Linked DNA regions of Homo sapiens. The protein of the gene in region 2 interacts with the protein of the main gene of each other region in a pairwise test. Each region holds a gene or a part of one and is shown on either strand. Other genes may lie near its edges.

Region 1 (3,028 bases), on a different chromosome or scaffold from region 2:
AAAGAAGACAGAATCTAGTGCCTTACATATGTGGAAAGTCCAAACTTAGCACCAGGAGGAAGGGCAGGCTCTGTAGGTACAGGTAGGGTGGTAGCTGGTGTGGCAGAAGTACATGGAGAGTCTCTTCTGAGTCTTCCCATCTTCTCCGTGTTGTAGGAAGGAAGGTCCTCAGTTGAGAATGAGGAGAGAGGGAAGGAGGTGTTGGAGATTTGAAAGAAGAAAAGATGTGACTGGTCACTTGGGGGTGGAAGAGTGCGTGGACTGGGGAGATTGAGTAGGATTGATGCAGCCCTAGGGCCTCCCTGGAGTCCGCGGCTGTGAATGCAAAGAGAGCGGTCAGCATGGTTGTCTGTGTGGGAATGGACTCAGTCAACAGAACATTGCAATTGCATGGGGTTTGGTGTTGCCAGGTGCCTGCAAAGGTGAGGGAGTCAAATATGTAAAGAACTCATCTTGATTCTGGACCACAGCATATGAGCTAGGAAAGGAGGAAAGACAGGATGTGGAGAAGCCAGTGAGGGGGCAGGAGGAAAAAGGGACTACAAGTCCTGAGTGTAGTGTCAACAAGTTATTGGAATTGGGGAACTGGAGGAAATTAGAAAGCTGGTGGAGCATGAGTTGCTTGAAATTGAAGTCACAGAAGGGGCTTTGTTAATGACAAAGTTTAGGGAATGGCCAACAGAGCAAGTGGCTTGGGTAGGCAGAGCACAAGATCAGGGAGGAAAGGATGTCCAGGAACTGGGAGGCCCGGGTACTGGAAGGATCATCTACGTGGATATGGAAATCACTAGAACGTGTGACAGAGGTAGTACAGGAGAGAGTGACAGGCAGTTGCCCAAGCTGTTGAAAAATGGCATGGGAAAACTGTTCTGGAGGTTCCATATCGATATCTAGGTGACTGAAACAAGCAGGGCTGCTTTGCCCTGAGCTTCAAAGCTGGGGATTTTTTTTTTTTTTTTTTTTTTTTTTTTGAGGCTGGAGTGCCATGGCACAATCTTGGCTCACTGCAGCCTTGACCTCCTGGACTCGAGATCCTCCCACCTCAGCCTCTCAAGGAGCTGAGACCACAGGCACATGCCACCATGCCTGGCTAATTTTTTTTTTTTTTTTTGCAGAGACAGGGTCTTGCCATGTTGCCCAGGCTCCTGGGCTCAAGTGATCCTCCCGCTTGGCCCCCCAAAATGTTGGGATTACAGATGTGAGCCATTGTGCATTTTTAAGGCAGATAAAGGGAAAGTGATCTGGAAGTGGCAGTAAGGAGCAAGAAAGACTTCTCTTTAGGCCAGGGAAGAGGTTGTGTATGGAGAGAAGATAGTCGCACGTTGAGGGGATGCCAGGGAGTTAGTGCCTGAAAGGAAGAGCCAGGCTGAAGCAAGAAAGTGAAGAGGAACCCAGGGGTTGAAGGCAGGGTTGGGGAAGGTGGGAGTTGGTGTCACAGTAAAGGATGGACAGAGCTGCACAGTGACAGAGCCCAGGGTATGAAGATGGCCTCTCAAAATGGTTGAAGTGAACAGGAAGAAAGGGCCCCCTGGAGGGTAGCTCTGCTGGTCTTCAGGGCAATCTGTGGGGGTGGGGCTGTGTTGGGGAGGGGCCAGTGTGGGGGCTGGAGGACCCTGCAGAGCTCTGGGACCCCCTCTTCACTCTGGAGGAAGCTGGGAGAAAAGGGTCTTGCTGGGAGGGCAGGAAGATGATCAGTGTCAAGCTGTTGGCACAAGGTCTGGCGGGCACTCAGTAGACACACAGCCAGAGTGGCAGCCTCTTGGCCTGGGACTGTTAGACTTGTGGATCCCCGGGCCGGGGGTGCTCTGTATTTGGAAGGATGTATAAATGCAAAGGTACAGTTGCCCAAGGCCAGAGATCTGGCTGAATTGAGGCCTGGGAGTGAGTTTCTAACATCCTTGTTGATTGGGGCTGGGGTGGGTAATAATCTCTTACAGTGTAAAGTTTACAAGTATTTTTCCATCTTAGATCCCACGTGATCCTTAGGACAGCCCTTTGCAAAGGAGAACACTGAGGCCCAGAAAGGGCAACTGATTTGCCCAAGGCCACACAGTCAGGAACTTGGCTCTTTGAGCTCTAGGCCTCTTGTCCTTCTAGGCCACTATTTTGCTCCTCTCTGGCCAGATTAGTTCACTCTCGAGGAGGGGCCCAGAAGGAGGCTTGTTAGCTGGGGCCAGACTGTGTTGCTGAGGCTGAATGTTCCAGTCTTCCCTCCTGCAACATATCTTGCTCTCATAGTTCTCATTGTGAAGCTCTGAATCTTTCTTCTCTCTCCTCCCTCCCCCATGCTGCAGTACATGCTGTGGAGAGTAAGTGGCCCTGCCCCCATGGAGGCCAAACCCCTACTTCTGGGGCAGCCTGCCCTACTAGAATGGCGGGGAGGTTGGATGGGGCTGTGATTGGGTCTCCTCTGACCTGGCTGCTGGGTGACTGTAAAAGGTCTGGGATGTATCTTTGAAGTATGGTTCCTTGCAGCAGGAGGGATTGAGGCTAGAGGGCAGGAATAAATTGTTCTGGAACAGTTGGTACAGGGTCCCCATGGGATTTCTTCTGGGGAGCTTTGAGGGTGGAGGCAGGGAAAGTGTGGATGGCATTCTCAGATCCCACCTCACTTTGAGGTTCAGTGATTTGCCATCAGCTCTAGTTAGTGAGAGCCCATAGTCGGTGGGTTTTGTTTCCGGAGATGCAGGCAGGGCCATGGTGGTAGTCAAGGCATAGAGTTCCCTGTGGACGTCAGGGAGGAACCAGGGTCTGTTCTAAAGACTCCTGAGGAGGGCGTGAACTCTCACACAGGCCCAAGGCTTGCCCTTTCTGGCTGTCCTTAAGCAGGACCAGGAGGTGCCAGGCTGGAGAAGGAATGAGGGGCAGAGAAGACAGGTGGTTTGCAGTCCAGGGGGAGGAAGGAGGAGGCCAGTGCTGCTCCTACTAATGACGCCTTCTCCCTTGCCTTCTCCCTTCTCTCCTAGTCCATGACTTGCAGAGCTTTGGCCTTGACAACGTACGTACCAGATGGAAACCATGGAGGGCA
Region 2 (2,586 bases):
GAGGTCATGGAGACATGGGAAGCAGGTATTCACATTAGCTCTATTCAAGAGGAAGAGGAGGAGGGAGTGTGCGCAGGCGCCCTAGGGTCTTCCCCAGCACACGTTGGGAAGAAGGGGTCTGCAAGCATGCGCACAATTGCCAGCTCAGGCTAAGGACTGCAGGAGGTTCCAGGTGGGTTGCGGGCTTCGGGCAGGCTATGGTGAGGGGTCCTGAGGGCCTTGGTGACCGCTGCAGGGAGTTGGACTTTTTGAAGCGTGGCTCAAGAAAAACCCATGTTTAATTCCTGCCTTTCGCTTCCTCAGCAGCCTTTCTGGGCCCAGGCAGGGGCCTCGAGCCAGGGAAGGATCCTTTGATGACCAGAGGGGACAGCAGGGAGGGCACAGCGTGGTCGTCCACGGTCACTTGCGCACGAGCCAGTGCTGCTGCTGGTGTTAGACAACAACTTTTATCAAAGTGGTTTAATGTACAGCAGCAACAAAGCTGCTTTGTGGAGCAGGGCTCCCAATAGGCAGTGTGCCCAGAGTAGCAGCTCGGAAGCAGTACTGCAATCACATTTATACCCACTTTCAACTATATGCAAATTTAGGGGTGGATTATGCCAAAATTTCTAGAAAAAAGGTCGTAACTTCCAGGTCGTGGGATTGTTGCTATGGAAAGGAGCCAAAACTTCCAGCTGTTGCCTTAGCAATGGTAACCTGACGTGGCACTGGTGAGTGTGTTTTATGGAGAGACTCTTTCACCTCTTCCCTTTCAGCTTGTCTTCAGTGTGGTCTGGAGCCCAATCCCCACCTCCAGAGTCTAGTCCTGCCTCCTACCTCAGTAATAAAAAGTAGTAGTATATGGTTAATTGTCAAATACATTTGCAAAGTGTAATCAAAGATACATTACCAATCTGAATCTCAAAATGTGCTATCATCTTTGAATTTGAATAATGTATTATTAAAGAAGTTACAGTTTTCCTTTACATTCAATAACATTTCTTTAGTGGTTTTCTTTTTCAGATACTTTGATTATGATCTTTTTTTTTTCATCTTTGTATCCCCGTTATACAACCCAGTGCCTGGCATAGAAAGTGGGATCAACAAATGTTTGGAAAATGAATTGTAAAGTTGACTTTCCTGTACCTTTTTAATATTAGATTTCTAGCTACCAGACTTTTGACCATTTTCTAAATTTTCTACCATAGATAACAGAAAATTCTTTCGCGCAAGCATGTCATTGTATTAATGATATTCTCCTGCCCTAAGGAAATTTACTTCCCTTCAAGCACAGGGTCCCCCAAATTACTGTATTTCCACCCCTTTCAGCTTATTTTATCCTTTTCTCCTGCTACAGAACAGTTGGCATTCACCATTCCCTTCGGTAAAGTCTTTTTTTAGGCTGTGGCTTAAAGGTTGCTTTTTCCCCCATAGCTCAAGGTTAGGCCTTGTGACCTCACTTATGTAATTTGAGTGATTTGATAGCACAAATCAATTTTATACTTAAATTACAGCATAAAACAGCACTGCCTCCTGTTGGAAAAACTTGCTTGCTAATTTTAACCAGACACAGTAAAAATACTGTCCAATACCTCAAAAATTGTGTAAATATATATCCATTTCAATTGTCCCCCTTCCTCTCCTCTCCTTTTATCTCTTGGAAGATAAAAATGTATGGGTCCTGTGCTGATAATGTTTCTGTTCATATTTCTATGCCCTGGTACCTGGATCAGCTTTTGTTCTACACAAAAAGACTTGTATCTGGCTTATTTCTGAAAGCTAGTGTTGGCCATGATGAACTTTTAGAGCAAAAGATTTCAGGCAGAGTACATTCTTACATATTCTTACACAATCAATATTCAGTTCCAGCCCGCACAGTAGCCCTAGCAAATGCCAGTGCTCCTTCCAGAGATTCACCTATGGATTCAGTACCCCAGAAGAGAATTTCTGTAAATTCTTGGGGAAGCTATAGCTAGACTATGGCTCAACACTCATTTTTCCCCCATGATTCTTAATCTAACAGTGGCAATGTTGGCCTCTTCTTAGGCAACTAGATTCGGTTCTTGCTTATTCTGCCAATAAAATACTTTATTGAGATGCTTACAAATTTGTCCCCTCCTCTTTATTTCTTTAAGAAGTTATCACTCCATATACTGGATGTTTAGTTATAATTATTGGTTTGAGTCTTATTTTTATACTTTCAATCACATTCTTTGCCTAATTCTTCTCATATTTTTATATTTTCTTTCCCTCCTCATAATTCTCTTTACATACCACTAAGTTTAGGCACTTGGACTTTTTTTACTTTCAAAATGGTGTTATATTGTGCATATCCTCTTGACTTCATACGTCTGAAGACTCCTAGACTATCTTTTCTACTACATGCTAGCAGAATGTATCATGATGAACACTGAAGAGAATTGCATACCACTGCTCAAAAATTAAACACACACACTTGCATGCATGCAAACGTGCGCGCGCGCACACACACACACACACACACACCAAGGATAGACATCTCAATCTCAAGAAATAAAAAGGAAAGAAAGACTTTCTGACTTCCAGTTCTGCAGAAGGATCAACTCCAGGTTTTAAGCCTGAATTATC

The links.
Region 1: the proteins of GIMAP1 (region 2) and ERGIC3 interact in binary tests that used the Homo sapiens proteins (3 or more experiments, as listed by UniProt).

Annotation. Positions count from the first base shown.
Region 1 is NC_000020.11:35,552,078-35,555,105, forward strand, and holds part of ERGIC3 (endoplasmic reticulum-Golgi intermediate compartment protein 3), read left to right. Parts: intron 1-2,294; coding exon of another isoform or gene 2,295-2,309; intron 2,310-2,966; coding exon 2,967-2,998; intron 2,999-3,028. UniProt on the Homo sapiens protein: Possible role in transport between endoplasmic reticulum and Golgi. Positively regulates trafficking of the secretory proteins SERPINA1/alpha1-antitrypsin and HP/haptoglobin.
Region 2 is NC_000007.14:150,722,199-150,724,784, forward strand, and holds the end of GIMAP1 (GTPase IMAP family member 1), read left to right. Parts: 3' UTR 1-2,086; downstream 2,087-2,586. UniProt on the Homo sapiens protein: May regulate lymphocyte survival. Required for normal levels of mature T-lymphocytes and mature B-cells.